Homo sapiens: one gene and its partners. The protein of the gene in region 3 binds, or shares a complex with, the protein of the main gene of each other region. Each region holds a gene or a part of one and is shown on either strand. Other genes may lie near its edges.

Region 1 (7,025 bases), on a different chromosome or scaffold from region 3:
AATCAAAGGAGAAAAGAAAGACAAAACCAACATGCCACAGCCTAGACAATTCCATCCAGCACTGCTGCCTCCAGATCTGTTTTCTGGCTCTCTCCACCCAGCACTGCTGCCCTCGGATCTATGTTTTCTGGCTCTCTCCTCGCCCCACTCCAATTAATTTAGCCCCCAACCCCATCCTACTTTGTTAGGGTGGAGGTTCACCAAATGATGGGGCTTGTTCAGAAGAGAAACATTTTATGGTCAGTGCAAGTTGAATAGAAAGTACCAAAAGGTGGAGAGGGCTGCCCTTCTCTTTTAATCATCATAAGAGGGTTTACTAATACTCAAGAGTGTCCTTTAATGACTGATCCCTGATCAAGGCTTTGGCCCTTCAAACTGCTGCTGTTCAAAACGTGAAATGATTCTGCTGAATCCATTCTTGATGTCTCTCTTTAGTGGTCTTCTCATTAGTGGTCTTCTCTTCAAATGGGTTGTTTTCTCACTAGGAAAAAAAATGTTCCATCTCTGGAATTAACGTTGATGGTGTTTTGCTCATTCTGAAAGTTTTTATCCTCCCTTCTCAAGCATGCTCTGCAAGAAAAACAGAAAGAGTAAGTTTTACCACCGGGAGAGGACAAAAAATAAATGGCACTAACTATTTAGTATGATTTGTGTTGCTTTTCAAATATCTAATTTTAAAAACACAGAAAACAAGGCATATGCTTCCTGTTCTCAAAATATTGCTCCTTTAATCAACACCATTGCTTTATCAATATGATCTTTAAATGACCCCTCTCACCACCACATGGGTTGAAAACCCCAACAAGGCCGGGCGCAGTAGCTCACGCCTGTAATCCTAGCACTTTGGGAGGCCAAAGTGGGCAGATCACTTGAGCCCAGAAGCTTGAAATCAGCCTGGGCAACACAATGAAACCCAATCTCTACCAAAAACAAAAACATTAGCTGGGCATGGTGGTGTGTGCCTGTAGTCTCAGTTACTCGAGACGCTGAGGTGGGAGGATCCCTTGAGCCTGGGAGGCAGAGGGTGCAGTGAGCCATGATCATGCCACTGTACTCCAGCTTGGGCAACAGTCTTTGCTGTCTCAAATAGAAAGCAAAAGTGCTCCTGGTAGGGGCATTTGGAAATGTTGGGAGCATGGCTGATGGATGCAGTGACCGGGGGAAAGCTATGGCCAAGGCAGTGCAGGGATCAAACCCCAACTCCAAAGGCTCTGAGAGGGAATCTCTTCATTAGAGAAACACAAGATTCCTTCCCAGAGGGGGAGAACGCAGATGTTCATGTGCTCATGAGGCTGGACAGAGCTACACAGATTGGTACCTATTCCCAGATTGCAGAAATGGTCCCTACATTCTATTTAGTTATTTATTTGGGAGATGAGGATGTAGATAGGAAGAATTCTTAACTATCAGATGAGAACTCTATAACCAGCTGAAATGGGGGTATACTGCCTTCATTTTTAGAGGTCTTTAAGAAGAAAAAAGTGATACTTTCCCCTCTAGTTTTGCAACCACTCAGAGAGGCAAGGTGAGGCCGAGGTTGCCTCTAGTTTATCCATTCCCACCTGCCTCCCGCCAACCCGCACCCTTCCAGCCATCTCTTCATTGAGCTCCTACCAGGTACCACTGCACTCAGTTTAGTGCATTGGGGAAACTAATACATACACCTGTGGAAAATTCAGGAATAATAAAAGGTAATAATTTGCTAATTTTTATTTATTTGCTAAATACATGCTAAAATTTATTGTGTAAACAGCATAACATTTAACAGGAACCAAATAGTATCTGGTAGAAAGTAATTTTTTCCTTCCGTTTCCCAGTTTCTGTGTCCCCTTCCAGAGATGGTCACAGTTCACAAGAGGAATGGTTCTGCCTGGTGCAGAGGGCAACCCTGTAGCTGGAGCGAGCAGGGAAGGCTTCTCCAAGGACCTTCCACCATGGAGAGAATCCAGGTGGAGGACTGGGGTGGGACTGGGAGGAGTGAGGGGAGAAAGCGGTGGCCAGGATTCAGCAGGGGAAGAAGCCTAGCACACACAGAATCCTGAGGGGAGAGGCCTAGCTGGAAGAAAGGGTACATGCTCAGGACTGACCAAGAGAAAGGGTGGAAAGAGGGCCCAGGACGGACGCCAGGCTGAGACATGTCCTGCTAGCCACAGAAAACATGGAGGAATGCTTTTACATAGGAGAATGGCATTTAGGAATGTTAACCTGACATCCTCAGCATGATGGATCCAACAGAGGGGAGTCTGCAGGCAGGAAGCCCAAGGAGGAGGCAGATTAGAAACCAGACAAAGGTGGAAACAAGAACTAGAGCTACATGGGAAGAAAAAGGGAGATGGTGACACCCAAGGTATGGGAGGATCCTTGGTGACAAAGACAGTGATGGGGCCACCAAGAGAAACAGGGAAGTCAGTGGGAGCCTGGGAAGGAGGAGGATGACTTAAATTTTGGGTTTGTGAGGCAATTTTGGGTGAGACATCCAAAATGGAAATGTCTAGAAGGACGCTGTAGGCCCTCTGAGGTCAAAGGTCTCTAGACACAACAATTTAGGGTCAAAAATTTAAAAATGATTGAAATTAAGGGGACAGAACAGAAAGAGTAGAAGTCAAACAAGATGGTGTATTGGGTCATAGGAGCAAAGGGTGGATAGATTATCCTAAAGTGTTCATCATTATAGGTTTCTAAGAAGTCTATGTCATAGGGCACAAAAGAACAGATATAAAGGCAGACAAACTTAGACATAACACACACAGTGGTGAGAAAAACAATGATTCTGTCATACAGGAGGTAAATTAGAAAAGCTAGATGCATTTAGGGAAAACAGGAAAAACAAAGTAGGTGCAGTGGAAGATTGCTCAGCAGAGAGTTGTCCTGTAAGAACTCATACTGGAATGTGAGGCACCAGCCCCATGTTCGCTGGGAAAATAACACGCTGAGCACCCACCATGTAAGAGACACCACCTGGCAGTGTCACAGCGTCACAGCATCTCAGCTATGCTCACCTGCTTATGAATTGATCTGTGTGAGCCTCTCCAATCACATAGATGATAAGTTCTATAAATTCCAGATATATAGACAACCTCACTACATCATGCTTTATTAAATACAAAATGGAAGCCAGTATCAAGCAGATCTATACTGAGCCTATCTAAGGGAATGCAGTTACTAGAGAAAGTGATCTCTTTATAAATGATGCCACTTAGCCATTTGCATTTGGGGGGGTTATAGATTCACTGCTTTCTTCAACACACTGATGGGAGCTTTGAGTTGTCATCTGCCTGGTCAAGATTACATAGCTGTACCCCTCTCTACAATTTTGGGCTTAGGGTTACAAGGATAACCACATGACAATGTACCTCCTTTCAAATATTGCAAAATAACCTGCAGCTGCCACAACTTAAGGAAAGCAACAGTTAAAGAGTGTTTTCACGAGTCTAGAGATTGTTTTTACTATTCTCTCTGCAACCTCAACCAAATATAGATGGGTAATTTTTCAGCCAAATCATATCATGCTAAGAATGTTAGGCTCTCTTTCAGAAAGAGACAAGATGGGGCCTGGCTGGTCTGAGGATGAGCAGGCCAGTCTCACATAAAGACACTAAAAGAAGTAACATTTTAATAACCCCTTTAGCCACATTCACAAAATACCGTTACATGTATTAAAATTCTAATCCTCCAAGATAGCACAGTGGTTCAGCTGATTTGTGGTGACTCCTTGAAGACATGTGGGACCACCACAGAAAAGCACCAGGGCTGATCTATAAACATTTTGTCAAACTGCACTCACTTGCTACCAAAGGGTGGCAGGGGTGGTACAAAACCATCTCAATTCTATCAGGGAAATTAACAAACACAATGGCAGGCTGGATTTTTAAAAAAGATGAATTCATCTGTCAAACATTTTGGGTTATTATTATATTCCAGCTATGCGACAAAACCTGCTCCAACTCAGAACTCAGGGCTTTTGGCTGGAGGGATCCGTAGTCTGGTGGGGTCTGTGTTATTCAGCTTTCACCTTATAGGTTCTACTGTCTCTGTATTGGTTCCGTAAGTACTGCTGTTGGGCTGAATTTCAACGCTGCATAAATTTAACACTGCATAAATTAACATAGGAAATTCCCTAAAGAATGAGGGAGAAGCTTTGCAAGTTATAAAAAATTGCTTCCTTCATTTAAGGAACTGCTAACACTTAATCTTAATGTGGAGAAAGAAATTCCTTGCTTTTGCTCATCATTCACGTATCTGGGCCTGCAGAAACTCCTTTTATAAACAGCTGGGTAAATCACCAAAAGAAGAGAGTGGTTCAGGCATGAACACTGCTCTTTTCCCAAGTCTTTTTCTCATTCCAGCCACTGAAGAACAACCGGCAGCTCACAAATAAGAACAGCGCCCCTGGAGACCTGAGATTGCGTGTCATTTCCGCTTATTAAAACCTTACTAACCATCCTAACCGCTTGCCTCAAATATTTCTGTTAAGCAGTAATCTCATCAACTGATTTTTGAATCACAGCTTTCTTGGAGGGGTTGACTATCATAGCAGCATGCCAGCTACTGGTTGTGTTGATAATTTAAGAGAAATGATGGCAACCCTGGGTTGCTAACCAATCATCATGAAGAGAAGAAAAGCGGTTTGTTTTTTAAGATACCACTCAGGGTGCTTGTCTCTGGATGAACTTACCCAGCGCCTCACCAAGACTTCAGGCCTCATAAAGCTGGGTAGAGAAGCAGGAAGGTCTACCTAACCAAGGAAAAATGAAACTGGAGATGTGTCCTGGCACAGACCTGGTCTTAAGACACGAGTTTTACTAAGGAGGGTCAGGAAAAGTGGGGAGTGGGAGACACTGGAGCTTCGATGAGGAAAAAGCCAGAATGAGAAGACTGTGCATAAGACAGGAAGGAAAAGTCATCTATAAATTGAATTTATGGGAAGCACAAAGCGAGTTTTGCCTGTGCACCAAGTACTGTTCTTCACTACCTGGAAATCTGATTAGATCACTTATTTTGTTTTCAATATGTGTCTATTCCCCTGCAGCAAGAGCTGTTTGTTCTTTGTTCCTCCTGCTTTGGAGGAAATAGAAGTTAACTTTTTTCTGCCTGGATCTTGTTTTATATCTTCTATGACAAATGCTCTGTATAATATTCAAATTAAGTTACAAGTAATTAACTGTTTATACAGCTGGCTGCAATAACAGACAAAACACTAACATACTGCAGTTCTAATTGAAGGATGACCATGGGAAAAGAAATACCTATTAAGAAAAATGAAAATCTATTACCATGGTAGTATTTCTTCTATTAAACTCAGATTTAAAAAAAGAGAAAATGTCACGAAGCAACGATTACTCTCAGAAAGTGGTTTAGAAAAGGATTCCTATGATGGAAGAGGTTGGGATAGGAAATTTAAAGTTTGGAATTTTGTTTGCTTTGATCTGACTCTAAATTCAAAGGGCTGCCCTACCAAAAAAATGGGAAATCTATTATGAAATACCCACGTGTCAGTCACCCTGTGACCAGCATCCCAGCTGGGCAATTAATAAATGTCATCAAGCGATAATGATAAAGCAGCTTTCGAACACAATAAAAACATGCTCCTGGGGGGCTTCCCAGAAAGTTAACCTTCTTGATTATCTTCGTGCTCTCTGAAAGTGGCCACCGTGTACATCGGGGGGACCCTGATGTGGGTCGGGGAGAGAAGCAGGGTGACTGGGAGCAGTAGAACCAAGGGAGGGTCTGGTCACAGCTGTGAGCTAGCCAGGGGACTGGGGTCACCTACTGTTTCAATGGGAGCAAGAGAAGAGGGGAAGGGGATCTCTTTTCAAGGCTTCCATCTGATTCCCACATCATCTTCCAATTTGTTCTTAAGGCTAAAGATTCATTCCTAGGGTTGGTCTGATGAGACCTCTGCCAGGTAGCTTTGACCTATAGGGAGTGATAGCTCCCCATCTCCCAAAAGATGGAAAACAAGGACTTGGCAGGACCTCTGAAAGGTCAAAGACCTTTAATGCAATTCAGGCCAATGGGCTCTAAGAGCAATGGTTTTCAAACTTTGGGTACAGAGTCTCCTGGGAAATTTGGTCAAAGTTCAGATGCCCAGGCCTCACCCCAGACCTTCTGAATCAGAATCTCCAGGGATGGGGATTGGGTGGGTACATTTTAAGCAAACCCCTCAGGGGATTCTGATGCTCACCCACATCTGAGATCTGACACGACAGGAAAAATACCCTGGTTTTGAATTTAAGAGTGGGCTGTTTGGTCTGGGTTCTGCCCTTCTACAGATCATTTAAATTCTCTGGAAGCTAATTTTGCACATGAAAAAAATGAGGTTGGGTTATATGATCTCTAGGGTCCTTTTAGCTCCAACAGCCTATAAGTCTATTAAATCATTTGCATCTAATGTAGAGTTCATCTGAAAACAATGATAACATACAGCTTGCTCTGGCAATAGGTTTTTCTTTCAAGAACCTTGATTTTTAAGCAAAAGCTACTACTATGTTTTCAGGACCCCTTCATACTCAAAATATGTCACAGACTTAGGAGCAGAATCCTGGTCTAATATAAATACAGTTCACCGGGGAGATGAAATTGTCCTTCAGAAGGCGGACAGAAATTGTGCCAGGGCAAATTCCTCCATATGCACTGATCTTGAGGCTTTGACTTAGGAAGCCAACCAAATACTGGAGATGTCAATGATATTTTAGAAACGAGACAACGGGGTGCACTAGCCTTAAGTTGGAGAGCTGTCACATTAGGATCTAGCCTCATTTACTGGGTCCTGACCCCAAGTTCCTCACTGTGGCCAGGTTCCTTTCTGATCTCTCCAAAGAGATCAGCAGGAAGCATGTAGGTCTGAGGTGGGGCTGTCTCATTTACAAGACGTCCTTATTGTGAGCTGAACTAACTGTTTGCGTGGCTACTGTCCCACTGCCTGCTTACTGACTGAAACTTCTGCTATGGTTTGGGGGACCCCTGACAGACTCATCATCTAACTGCAGGTCCCACACTGACCTCTGTCCCTTGGGCATCTCCTG
Region 2 (7,105 bases), on a different chromosome or scaffold from region 3:
GGCTGGAGGACACTGGCATAATCTCGGCTCACTGCAACCTCCCCCTCCTGGGTTCAAGGATTCTCCTACCTCAGCCTCCCAAGTAGCTGGGTGTACAGGTGTGTGCCACCATGCCCAGCTAACTTTTGTATTTTTGGTAGAGGCAGGGTTTCACCATGTTGGCCAGACTGGTCTTTAACTCCTGACCTCAGGTGATCTGCCCACTTCGGCCTCCCAAAGTGCTGAAATTACAGGCATGAGCCACCACTACCAGCCACTAACACTTAATCTTACAGGGACGAGAACACTTTCTAAGACCAGGCCTCAGGAATTAAATACAAATGGTCATTAAGAATATTCAACTTGCTCTAAAGAAGCTGGGGCAGATCTTCTTTGGCATCTGCTTCTCATTAAATGAACTGATTTGTTCCCTTTGGCAACTGTTTTGTTGATCTGGCAATCTTTTTCACTCACTTGCCTAAAGACAAGGTGAATTCCTCAACCCTCAAGTAACTCTGCTAACAGAAAAAGCCTCTACACCAAAACATCCTTTCTTCATACCATCACCTCCTTTCTTCAGTTTTCCTCTTTCAAACACAAGCAGAAGGAAGGACGTGGCTCTCATAACGTGGGGCTGTGCACCTTACTGTGCACCTCTGGACAAGTCATTTATCCTCTCTGATTAGTTTGCCCAGCTGGAAAAGAAAGCAGTCAGTCACCAAAGTTCCTTCCAGTTTTAAAACTAAGTGGGGCACTATCATCCCTGTCAGGACAGGTATGGGTATTGTCACAAAATTTTCAGGCTGCCTTGCATACATCATGGGGGGGAATTGCAGAAGTGAGAAAAAGTTGCTTTTTGCACCGAAAAGATCTTAATTAAAGTCCCAGAAGTTACTCAGGTTAACACCTTGGGCAAATTCCTTAACTCCTTTAAGCTCAATTCTCCATCTTTAAATACAGAGAATTTATATGTTGCAGAAGTATTTAAGAGAACTAGAAATGAAATGTACCTGTCTTATATAATACTCAAAAAACATGAGGTTTCCAATCAACTTGAAAGAAGGCACCCCCAAAGGCACTCCCCTGAACCTCTGAGGACTCCAACTTAACTTTCCAACATTCCCCAAAACAGGAGACCAAATCACAAGGGTGAGAGCACCCAAACAGAGCCAAGCTTATCTTTCTAAATTCCAATTCAGGTTCCTCCCTCTCGGCCTTCCAACACAAGCCATCTCCTCCCCCATTTAATCCTTGCCACGAGTGAGGTCCACAAAACTATACAACGCCTAGCAAGCACCAAATGTGCCAAGTACTCTGCTAGGCTAAGAAGAGAGGCCTCCACAAAGCACTCTCTCTGTGCGTTTCCTTAACACTTTCACAGACATCATCTTATCCTAGGCAGTACCTAGGATACATACACACCCAATTTTTTTTTTAATGTGGCCATTGAGGCTCAAAAGAGTTTTTTACCCAAGGTCACACAGCTAATGAGCACCTGCCAGAACTCCTGAAGTCTGTCTTTCTAAGCCACCTCCCTAATTCCTCCTTAATTAACTAATTCATCTACACCCAGCTCTGTGCGTTTCATTTAATCCTAGTCCCTTTTACTGGGTTCATTCATCTCTCCACAGTTACTTACAAAGCACCTGCAGGTGTAGACACAGGTGGAGGAAGAGGCCGAGCACAGCAACATGCCCTGGAATTGGCTTGTTTCAATCCCAGCTCTCCCACTTACTATTTACATGATCTTGGATCAGTTCGTTCACCTCTCAGTGCCTCACTTCTCCTTAATCTACAATAATGGGCTAAATAGGGCTGTTGAAAATTAAATCAGTTAACTTATAAAGGGTTTAGTCCAACGCATGGCCCCTACACTGCAATAAGAGCTGCTTTTATTCTTCTGGGTTCTGGGGACAGTCTTCAATCAGACAGGAACCTTAGCCTCAAAAAGCTTACACTCTAGCAGTAAACGCAATAAACAAGTAAACAATTATCAACAGAAGCGATCACTGTGATGAGTGCTATGAAAATAATAAATGTTGGACGCGGGGTGGGAGGTTACTTCAGATTGGGTGGTCAGGGAAGGATTCTCTGGTGATATCTGAATTACAACAAGAATTACAAGAAACAGCGGGATTTAAGGAGAGCTGAAGGAGAGAGAACAGCCGGCGCACAGACCCTGAGCTGAGCCAGCGGCACCCTCCAGGAAAACACGGCGGTCCTGAGGCTGGGGACGAGGTGCGGGTGCCACGCGAGGGAAATGGCACGAGATGCAGTCCCAGAGGGATGCAGTCCCCAGAGGTCGACGGGCAGCGGCCAGCTTTGGAACCAGGGAAGGCATCATCCAAGCGCGCTAGGAACCCACTGGAGGGTTTCAGGCAAGGAAGGGGATCAGATCTGAGCTATGGTTCTTCCTGCGCCCCGCAGATGTGCTGTGGAGAACAGGCCGGCGGGGAAGAGCTGAGTCCCCAGGCAAAGCCCAGGTGGGAGACACCGCGTACCCAGAACGAGATGCGCGCACCTGAGGGGCCACGGGCTGGGAGGCCGGGCGCAAATTCAAGAAACGTAAAAACTAAGCCGACCGGAGCCAGGACGTGGCCAGGGCGTCCCTCGTGTCCCAGGGGCCTCGCACCTGTACAGTTCTTCACTCCTCCTTCCCTGAAGCCCATGTCGCGAAGCTCCAAGGCTGCCAGCCTCGGGCTCGCGTCTCGGCTCAGCCTCTTCCTGGCCTGAGCCCCCGGAGTCTCCCAAGCCCCACGCCCCTCACGCGTGGAAAGAGCCCCGGCCCTGCGCTCCGCCCCGCACCTCCCCCCCGCGCCCGCGGCCTCCACGCCCGCCCCGGCCCAGGCGGCGCCGCTCACCCGGACACCCTGCAGCACCCGGACCCGCTCCTCCTCGTCCACTCCGAAGGACACCCTGCGGCCCTCGCTGCTCTCCGTGCTCCCCATGGCGAGATGCCGCAGGGCCGGCAGCCACCAGACCCGAGACCCGGCTCCAGAGCAACCGGGCCAACAACGCTTTCCAGGACTCGCGCGGCCGCGGCACACGCCAACAAAGCCACGTCCTATTGGCCGACGCCAGAGGCTTCACCAATCGGGTGGCGCTGAGTCGCGGTGCCTTGTGGGGATTGCAGTCCTTCCGTCTGGAGGGGTGGGGGCGTGGCGGTCTGTGCCTGCTAGAGTGCGTTAGGCTGAGGCCGAAGATGTGTACCGGCGGAGGCCCTGGAGTGGAGGGCTGGGTGCAGGACAGGGTCACGTTCTCGCTTTGGGAGCTCCCCCTTGAGGGAGAGCCAAGGGTGATGTTCTGAGGCCAGGAGACGCCGAGACGGCCAAGGCGCTCATCTGGAGGCGAATTTCTGAGGGTTCACTGCTCCATTCATTCAGCAAACACGTGTAGAGCAGCACGGGCTGAGCGCCAGACGAGCAGGGACCTGGCCCTGGCATTACAGCGCCCCTCAAGACAGCGAGTGTCCTGCCCTTGAGAGGTTTACAGTGCAAGGGGAAAACAAGTGAAAAGCCAAACACGCACGCAAGGAAACTGACTGTAATACACGGAAAACTGCATGGCGATGCCACTAGTAAAATGAACAGAAGGAGGCCTCTTTTAATTTCAGTGGCCAGAGCAACCTCTGAGGAAGAAGCTTTGAACTGAGCCGGCGGGAGAGTAGGATTTATGTAGAAAAAGGTAGGGGAAGAGGTTTCCTGGGAGTCTCAGGCAGGAAAAGAGAAAGAGGGGTCATCCCATGGCTGGAAAGTGAGAAGAGGGCAGAGGAGTGGTGAGGACCCAAATCATGTCGGGTCTTGTGAGGCAGGGTCTGAGTGTGGGTTTTATTCTAAACGCCCCGGGAGGACAGGGAATGGTCCTAAGCCGTTAGGAGGCATTGCCCAAGGAGTGTACATACCATGTGTGGAGTGCAGTGTGCCAGGCATTGTGTGTAGGCTTCTTACACAGGACCCTATGTGTAAGGGAGCACACAGACGGTTGCCAGTCATAGACACTGCTACCTTCAAATAAGCCCCTTTTTGTTCCTCTGAGTTGCTGAATGGCTTTGATTTGCAAAAGTGCGCCTGAAGCCGAGCTGAGGAAAACTAGATGGCTACATGAAATAGCCAGAAAATATTTGGAGCTCCTATTGGCAACCTGGAAAGAAAGGGGTGAGGAGGAGAGAATGATTGAGAGAGAGCAGTAAGGCTCTGAGATTGAGAATAGCTCAGGGTGAAGAAGCTAGTAAACATCCCAGAGCTGGTGTGACGATGGAATCTTTAGGAACAAAGGTGTCTGCTAGTTTCATTCAAAATACTTCATTGGCGCACCCCACTCCATCACCTCTGTCGTCCATTTCTTCCCTATAAGCAGAGCCTGCGTAGGGGATTCTGGTGCAAGGAGTTTCCTGGGGGAGCACCTCAGGAGAAAGGAAGTTAGGGAGACAGGCTAAGAGGGGTGGGGACCGGGGGCCGCGGGGAAAACTGAGTAAAGATGTGGTCAGACCTGGTCCTGGGCTTTCCTTTGTCTCTTTTCCTTGGAGGTTTATGATTACTAATTCAATCTCCTTACTCGTTATTGGTCTGTTCAGATTTTCTGTTTCTTCAAGACTCAGTTTGGATAGATGGTATGTTTCTGGGAATTCGTCCATTTCTCCTAAATTATCCAGTTTCTTGGTGTATAATTGTTCATAGTAGTTGATTATGATCTTTTGTATTTCTGTGATATCAGTTGTAATGTCTCCTCTTTCATTTATACTTTTGTTTATGTGAATTACCTTTTTTCTTGGTTAGTCTAGCTAAGGTTTGTTAATTTTGTTGATCTTTACTGTTGATCTTTTCTGTTGTTTTTCTAGTTTCTATTTCTGCTCTCATCTTTTTTATTTCCTTCAGTCTGCTGACTTTGGGGCTTAGTTTGTTCCTCTTCTAGTTCCTTGAGATATAAAATTAGGTTGTTTGATGTCTTTCTTTTTTCTTAATGTAGGTATTTTTCGCTATAAACTTCCCTCTTAAAAATGTTTCTATTGCATCCTATAAGTTGTGGTACCTTGTGTTTCCATTTTCATTTGTCTCAAGATACTTGTTTATTCCCCTTTTGATTTATTCTTTGGCTCATTGGCTGTTCAGGAATGTGTTGTTTAATTTCCGCACATGTGTGAATTTTCCAAAGTTCTTCCTATTACTGATTTCTGACAACAAACTATTCAAAAAGAAATTAAGAAAATGATCCCACTTACAATAACACCAAAAAGAATAAAATATGAATAAATTTAACCAAGGAGGTGAAAGAAAGATGCACACAAAAAATTGCACACTAAAAATTATAAGACACTGTTGAAAGATACTATAGGAGACATAAATAAGTAGAAAGATAGCCTGTGTTTATAGATCAGAAGAATTAATATTGTTAAAATGGCTTTACTACCCAAAGTAATCTACACATTCAATGTCATCATTATCAAAATTCTAATGACATTTTTCACATAAATAGAAAAAACAATTCTAACATTTCATATGGAACCACAAAAGACCCCAAATCATCAAAGCAATCTTGAGAAAGAAGCAGAAAGCTGAAGGCATCATACTCCCTGATTTCAAACTATATTACAAAGCTGTAGTAATCAAAAGAGTATGGTACTGGCATAAAAATAGATACATAGATCAATGCAGAAAAATAGAGAGCCCATGCATATATGGTCTACTAATGTTTGATAATGGTGCCGAGAATATACACACTATGGAGAAAGGAAAGTCTCTTCAATAATTGGAGCTGGAAATACGGGATATCCACATTCAAAAGAAGGAAATTGGACCCTTGTATTACACCACATAAAAAATCCATTCAAAATGAATTGAAGACTTAAATGTGAGATCTGAAACCCCAAAACTCCTAGAAGAAAACATAGGTGGAAAGCTTCTTATCATTGGTCTTGATGATAATTTTTTTGGCTATAACACCAAAAGCACAAACAACAAAAGTAAAAATAAACGAATGGTATGACATCAAACTAAAAAAGCTTCTCCACATAAGAGGAAACAAGCAGCAAACTGAAAAGGCAACCTACAGACTGGGAGAAAATATTTGGGCACCATATATCTGATAAGTGCTTAATATCCAAATATACTCTATAAGGAACTCACACAACTCAATAGCAAAAATAAATACCCAATTTAAAAATGGGCAAAGGACTTGAATAGACATTTTTCTGAAGAAGACATGTGAATAGCTAACAGGCATATGAAGAGCGCTCAACACCACTAATCATCAGAGAAATGCAAATTAAAACCATGGTGAGATATCACCTTACACCTGTGAGAATCAGTATTGTAATAAAGACAAGAGAAGTGTTGGTGAGGATGTAGAGAAAAGAGAACCCTGCACACTGCTGGTGGGAATATAAATTTGTAGAGCCATTATGGGAGAGAGTATGGCAACTCCCCCAAAAGTCAATACAATCTAATAATCCTATTTCTGTATAGTTAACTTTAGCCTAAAGCTGCTTCCTTGTAAGTTCAGCCTAAAGGTTGATCCATACATAGTGAACTGTAATCTAACTGGATGTGTAAACAGACTGTAACCTACTCTTATAACAAGTAGCCAAGTCTCAGCCAATCAGAAGACATACTACTCACAGGTGGCCAACTGTTCGGTGTTCAAATAAGTCTGTAACCCAGCTGTAACCAATCTGGCTATTTCTGTATTTCACTTCCATTTTATTTATGTCATTTTCCTTTTCCTGTCCCTAAATCCTCTCCAACCCCACTGGCAGCACTGAAGTCTCTTTGAAGCTATTCTGATTTGGGGGGCTCCCTGATTTGTAACTTGTCCTTTTCTCAAACTCTTTAATCAGTCTCAAGTTTTTCCTTTAACAGTATATATCTAAAGGAAATGAAATCTTGAAAATATATCTGCTCCCCCATGTCCATTGTAGTATTATTCAAAATACCCAAAATATGGAAACAACCTGTGTCCATCAACAGATGAGCAGATAAAATGTTTTACACACACATATATATACATACACACACACACACACACGCGTGTTTTATCCAGCCATAAAAAAGGAAATCCTGCCATTTGTGACAACATGGACGAACCTGGAGGACATTTTGCTAAGTGAAATAAGCCAGGCACAGAAAGACAA
Region 3 (7,025 bases):
AGGAATCAATTCACCAAAACCTTCAAAGGCAAAAAGCAGGCTGTGGACTTCTGGTGACGCAATTCACAGCCTGGAAACTGTGAGCTAGAAGTTCCTACTTCTGCTGTTGTTGTTTCTCAAGGATATTTTCTGTACATACAACAAACTAGAATTTTTTTTTTTTGAGACGGAGTTTTGCTCTTGTTGCCCAGGCTGGAGTGCGATGGTGCGATCCTGACTCACTGCAACCTCCACCTCCCAGGTTCAAGCGATTCTCCTGCCTCAGCCTCCCGAGTAGCTGGGATTACAGGCATTCGCCACCACGCCCAGCTTAATTTTGTATTTTTAGTAGAGATGGGTTTCTCCATGTTGGTCAGGCTGGTCTCGAACTCCCAACCTCAGGTGATCCACCCGCCTCAGCCTCCCAAAGTGCTGGGATTACAGGCGTGAGCTACTGCACCTGGCCAGAACTGTACTTTTTGAAAAGGGATAAGATACTCAGTTTTCATCTTGTTGCTTTATTCAGTTTGCTCCGAGGGCAAAATCAACAGTAGTAGAGATCACAAACATTATTTTGATTGGCCTCACAAGCCTCATCAGTAAAACCTGAAAAAACAGAAAATGTTACACAAGTTGCAAAGAAAGCACTCCTGGCGTTCACTGACATGATAGCAAATGGAAAGAATATAAATGCAACAGGTGTTAACATTTAGAACAGTACTTGTAAACCTGCTCATTTCTAGACAAGTCCGGGACTCTCGCTGCGAACCCTTCATCTATCACTGCTGATTTCCTTTGACATGAAATATGACTTTATGAAAATCTTCCTAAACCTCACTCTGGCTGCACCTGAGTGGTTCCTATTCCTACGGCGCTGGCATATGCTGTCAGGATTTCCACTATCTGTTTCGTTTCTAGGGTCATTCGGGCTTCCTTCAGCCAGTCCTGTGCCACTCGTCTGGATTCCCCCTTCAGCTGATTGACAAACTTTGCTGCTAGCTCCAGATCACCATGCTCAATGCAATAGGAAGCATATGACAGTAATTTAAATGTGTTTATATCCTCAGGGCAGAGCTCTGGGGGCGGCTTCAGTTGCTGAGGTGGGAATAGGAGCAGGGACTGTAGGTAGGAGAGGAAGTACTGGTACAAGCTATTTCTGGTTTCATCAATCATTGCTACCCTTCGGGCCAGTTTTTGAACAGCATAGAAACGGGCTCTAAGGGTCTCTTCACTGTACACCCCACGGGTCAGGGACTCTGGAGGGATAGCTGCGGTTAAAGCTTGGGTGAATTCATTATCAGAACAGTTGGCTTTGATGGCCTCAACTGCACTACCCAGCGGGATAGTAGGTGTTTCTGCAGATGAGGTCTTCATGCTGTACTTTAATGCCTCCACTGAAAGCCAGAGTTGGTGGGCTTTTCTGGCTTCCTCTTCAGCAACTGCATGGCCTACAAAGAAAAAAAGGCAAAGCCAAACATTTTTCTCTCCATCTGACAACATACATCCACAGAACTGATGCACATTCAACAAGCTACATCTACACATGTGCAAGATGAGGCCAGAGAGACTTTCTTACAACCCCACCCCCACCACTTATTTCTGGTGTATTTTCCTAGCTGGCCTCTTCATATCAAAGTCAGAAGTCATTCACATCTGCATGATATCTAATCCACATATTTTTACCTTTACTAGTTGAGAAAGAAACATATTATTTAAATTAGGCTAAGACTTAACGCTAAGGCCATGAGAAATTTTCTGCAAAGAAATGGGAGACTTCAGGGCCAGGCACAATGGCTCATGCCTGTAATCCCAGCAATTTGGGAGGCCGAGGTGGGTGGATCACTTGTGGTCAGGAGTTCAGGACTAGCCTGGCCAACATGGTGAAACCCTGTGTCTACTAAAAATACAAAACCTAGCCAGGCGTGGTGGCACGCACCTGTATTCCCAGCTACTCAGGAGTCTGAGGCAGGAGAATCGCTTGAACCCAGGAGGCGGAGGCTGCAGTGAGTCGATATCACACCACTGCACTCTACCCTGGGCGACAGAGCAAGACTCTGTCTCAAAAAAAAAAAAAAAAAAAAAAAAGAAATGGGAGACTTCAAACGAACTTAACAGACTACTGGATCTTGAAATTCCATGAGTATTGAATTTATTTTTATTGTTATGTGACAAAAAAAGATTCCATAACATCCTAAAAAAACCCATTTTATTAATACCCTCATTGTCATGACATTTCTCTTTCAATGTGGCACATGGAGGCCTCAGCATAAATACTGTCCATTTGGTAGTTGGACTCGGCAAATCACCACCTCCAGATAACCCACCAAGTCTGTGGAAGGCAAGCATGGGACCACACTGACCCCTAGCCCTTACCACCCAGGCACATGCGACATAGCCAAAGGATACTGGGTAAATAGCCTTGTAAATGGTGATTTTGTGTTTGTCATACAAGGTATAAATTTCTAGTTATATAGATTTTGCCATTACTTTTAATGGCAAAAACTGCAATTAAGTAGAGTGATTAGTATTTTTATGTCCTGATGTCAGTACATGTACCCCATTTTCCCTATAAAATTATTTTGATAAATTATGCTGAGGAAAATTATCTGTAAGATAAACATAGCTTATGCTTACTCTGAACAGCCTGTTCGATTCCTCTGAGTCTGGCATAGGCAGTATTTATATCCAGAGTAAAGTTGTCAACTTGCTCTTGACTGAGACGACGAAATTGTAATTCTTGTTCAGAGAGTTTCTCAGACAGGTTCTGAAATAAAACAGAAATAGTTCCAGAAAAAAGTGATACTCAATGCATGTCATGTAACTGTGTAATCTTCCAGCAACTACTTGCTGAAGCAAAGAGGGCCTTAGAGTTGTCACGAAATTCCTACATTTTGTGTAAAGTTTCAAAAATGTCCTGACTCATATTTGATGTATATAATATATTTTTTTTTTTTTTGAGATGGAATCTTGCTTTATTGCCAGGTTGGAGTGCAGTGGCACAATCTTGGCTCACTGCAACCTCCGCCTCCCAGATTCAAGTGATTCTCCTGCCTCAGCCTCCCAAGTAGCTGGGATTACAGGCATGCATCACCATGCCAATTATTGTATTTTTAGTAGAGATGGGTTTCACCATGTTGGCCAGGATGGTCTCGATCTCTTAACCTCGTGATCCGCCCACCTCGGCCTCCCAAAGTGCTGGGATTACAGGCGTGAGCCACCGTGCCCGGCCGATGTATATAATTCTTTACAGGTTTACTGATGGAACCTAATATTAGAGGAGGCATACCAAGAGAAGAGAGAAGGCTGTTAAAGTCAGAAACAAACTGCCAACTGTATTTTATTTTTGAGACAGAATCTTGCTCTGTCATCCAGGCTGGAGTGCAGTGGCACAACCTCAGCTCACTGCAACCTCCACCTCCCAGATTCAAACGATTCTCATGCCTCAGCCTCCGGAGTGGCTGGGATTACATGCATGCACCACCATGCCCAGGTAATTTTTGTATTTTTAATAGAGACAGGGTTTCGCCATGTTGGGCAGGCTGGTCTTGAACTCTTGTCCTCAAGCGATCCACCCGCCTCAGCCTCCCAAATTGCTGGGATTATAGGTGTTAGCCACTGTGCTCAGCCACAAATTGTCAGCTTTAGAAAGTAAATTATCTGTACTGCAAACCTAAACATAATAATTAGATTAAATTATATTCTAATATCTTGTATTTAAGAGCTTATACATTAATTTTTCTCAGAAAAATATCCAAATAGAATTTAAAATACCTTTTCATACTGACATACATCGCGATTCTCTGGAAGATTTTACTTAGAAAACCTCAATATCTTCTTGCAAGACAAAGTAACAAGTTAATATTACTGTAAATGATTTCTTGAATAGAAACTATGATTACAGGCATCCTGATAATTTACTGGGATTTCAAAACTTCTCTGGGAAATTACCTCAGTTATAAAAATCTAAGCAGTACCATGCCATCTATAGGAGGAAGATACACATGTCAAATATTACTGTCTGCATTCCTGAAATCCCCTTTACCAACTCTCCTTAAAGCTCTGAAGATTCCAAATGACTAGAATATATATTTTAAAAACACATCTGATCATGAACACACAGGTACACCATTATGTAAAAAGAAGCAGTTTTGTAGACATACAAGGAGATTTCCAAATCTTCGACATCCTCAGAGTACATTAAAAGGAAAGGAGAGTCTCTTAATCCTGTCAGGAAGAGGGGTGTGGCTGAAGGGAGTCCAGGTCCTCACCTGCTCAAATTCAGACTTCAATTCCTGTTCTTGTACCCTAAGGACATCTCGCAAGTGATCAGTGTGGGCAGCTGCCTGTCGGCGAAGCTGGGTTCTCATTTCATTTTCCATGGCATCTCTGACTTCTTCTATCTGTGAAACCAAACATAGTAGTTATTAGTTTTCAATTCTCCACATATACTTTTAGGAAAACAGAAAGACCACTATCAACCATGACAACAGCAGCTTCCATATCCTGAACGCCTCTAATGTGCCAGGCATGTGTACACTTCTACTTCTCATGTGAAACGGAAAACTAAACCCTGGAAGGTGATTCAAACAAGATCACACAGCTGTGGCAAAAACCAGATTTCAAACAAAGGTCTCTCTCACCCCCAAACTTGTGGTTTTTCCACATCACCAGGCTGCCTCTCATATAAAACACTGCCATTTCCTGAATCACATGCTCCTCTGAGAAATAACTAAATCCAGGATATGAAAAAAAGTAACTATATACTTGGAATCAAGCGTAGCTTTACTACAACCATCTGTGTGACCTTGGGGAAATGATTTATCTTCTCAAATCTCCACTTTCTCATTTGTGAGTAATAATGCCTACTTTGAAGAATCATTAAGAAAATTAGTTGGCCGGGCGTGGTGGCTCACACCTGTAATCCCAGCACTTTGGGAGGCTGAGGCAGGTGGCTCATGAGGTCAGGAGATTGAGACTATCCTGACTAAAATGGTGAAACCCCATCTCTACTAAAAATACAAAAAAAAAATTAGCCGGGTGTGGTGGCGGGTGCCTGTAGTCCCAGCTACTCGGGAGGCTGAGGCAGGAGAATGGCGTGAACCGAGGAGGCAGAGCTTGCCGTGAGCCAAGATTGCGCTGCTGCACTCCAGCCTGGGCGACAGAGCAAGACTCCATCTCAAAAAGAAAAAAGAAAAGAAAATTAGTAAGTATCTGGTAGTTATTGACATAGACTTGACATAGACTTCTAAACAAAGAAAACTGCTTATTTTTAAATGAATTTAAATTCAACATGGGCCAAAAAAAACCAAAAAATATACCTTGCCTAACAAATAGCCATAGGTCACTTTACAAATTACTTAACACTGATTACCTGAAATCCAGAACTTATTTTTTCTCAGAAACAATATAATAAATCAATGAATCCATTCAGTCAGTGCATAAGTATTTATGAAGTGCTACTAGCCCTGTGTGCCAGGCAGTGCCTACTATCTGTACGGATCCAATGGTGCTTAGGGCAGACGAACTTCTTGCTCTCACAGTGTATATCTCAATGGAGGCAGCAGACAGTAAACAAAAAAGACATCTGAGATTGTGATACATATTTCTACATATGACTGAGCAGGCAAGGACCTGTTGTGAAGCATCAACACCCCTTCAACCTCCTTTTCCCCCACCTTACATTTAAAATAAACAGGGCAACATAACAGAAAGTAATACAGAGACTCTACTTTGGACTGAAGGGATAGGAAATCTCAGTCTTGCTAACAAAGTGACATCTAGGCTTAAAACTTAAGCTTAGAGCTCAAGGTTTAAACAGAGAGGATAGAACAATGTACTAGGCAGAGAAAACATAAAGGTCCCAAGACAAAAGATATAGTCAAGGTACAGACAAAAAATACCAGGGTGCCTGGAGCAGTGAAATGGCTCATGGCATGCAGTGATCAAGAAGCCTTTTGGGTACTGGTTAAGAATTTGGAATTATATTAAATGAAATGGGTAGTCCATGGAGGATTTCCAGCAGTGTAGTGTCTGATTCGACTATGTTTTATTTGCCTGCGTAAATAGACACAGAAAGAAGGGTATGAAGAAAGGGCAAATTGGCTGGGCATGGTGGCTCACACCTGTAATCCCAGCACTTTGGTGTTTAAATTCCTTGGGGAAGGCCGGGCATGGTACCTCATGCCTGTAATTCTGGCGCCGTGGGAGGCCAAGGCAGGTGGATCACTTGAGGTCAGGAGTTCGAGACCAGCCTGGCCAACATGGCAAAACCCCGTCTCTACTAAAAATACAAAAATTAGCCACATGTGGTGGCATGCACCTGTAAGTCTAGCTACTCAGGAGGCTGAGAGGCACAAGAATCACTTGAACCTGGGAGGCAGAGGTTGCAATGAGCCAAGATTGCACTACTGCACTCTACCCTGGGCCACAAAGACAGACTCTGTCTCAAAAAAAAAAAAAAAAAAAGAAAGAAAAAGAAAAAATAGTGGAAGCTGTTAAGATGACAGCTTGGGCTAAGGTGGTAGTAATGGAGTGGACAGATTTGGGATTTATGTTGGATGCAAAACTGGTAGGATCTGTGGGGCAACTGAATATGAGTTGATGGAGGAACAACAAAGCATGATTTGGGCTGGAATAGCTGAGCAGATTGTTCAACTCAGTTTATTTAGAGAGAAACAAGTTGAGGGGCTGGAAGACAGGTTGGAGAGAATAAATAAATCTGTTTGGAGCATGATAAGCATGAAATGACTACTGAAAATCAAGCTGGAGATACCAGGTAGGCTGCTGGATAGGAACCTGAAGCCAAGGCAGAGGTCAGAGCTGGAGATAGACATTTATCAGGTATAGATGGTATTTAAACTTCCAAGTCACGGGACTCAACAAGAACACTTAGAGACAGTTCAGATGGAGAAAACGTTTCAGAACTAATGCCAGGTATGCCACCATTTGAGAGGCTGAGCAGAAAAGGAGGTTAAGGAGTGGCCAGCAAGGTAAGAGAAAGGCCAGAAGAGTATGGTGTCAGGGAGCCTAGGGAAGAAATAGTTTCA

The links.
Region 1: IMMT (region 3) and CHCHD3 share a complex: the UniProt entries of both Homo sapiens proteins name them as parts of the mitochondrial contact site and cristae organizing system (MICOS) complex.
Region 2: IMMT (region 3) and CHCHD6 share a complex: the UniProt entries of both Homo sapiens proteins name them as parts of the mitochondrial contact site and cristae organizing system (MICOS) complex.

The regions. Positions count from the first base shown.
Region 1 is NC_000007.14:132,785,091-132,792,115, forward strand, and holds part of CHCHD3 (MICOS complex subunit MIC19), read right to left. Parts: intron 571-7,025; coding exon 547-570; 3' UTR 1-546. UniProt on the Homo sapiens protein: Component of the MICOS complex, a large protein complex of the mitochondrial inner membrane that plays crucial roles in the maintenance of crista junctions, inner membrane architecture, and formation of contact sites to the outer membrane.
Region 2 is NC_000003.12:126,700,135-126,707,239, reverse strand, and holds the start of CHCHD6 (MICOS complex subunit MIC25), read right to left. Parts: upstream 3,001-7,105; 5' UTR 2,928-3,000; coding exon 2,841-2,927; intron 1-2,840. UniProt on the Homo sapiens protein: Component of the MICOS complex, a large protein complex of the mitochondrial inner membrane that plays crucial roles in the maintenance of crista junctions, inner membrane architecture, and formation of contact sites to the outer membrane.
Region 3 is NC_000002.12:86,143,455-86,150,479, forward strand, and holds the end of IMMT (MICOS complex subunit MIC60), read right to left. Parts: intron 4,380-7,025; coding exon 4,248-4,379; intron 2,744-4,247; coding exon 2,614-2,743; coding exon of another isoform or gene 2,582-2,613; exon of another isoform or gene 2,106-2,581; intron 2,034-2,105; coding exon of another isoform or gene 1,916-2,033; intron 1,428-1,915; coding exon 814-1,427; 3' UTR 482-813; downstream 1-481. UniProt on the Homo sapiens protein: Component of the MICOS complex, a large protein complex of the mitochondrial inner membrane that plays crucial roles in the maintenance of crista junctions, inner membrane architecture, and formation of contact sites to the outer membrane.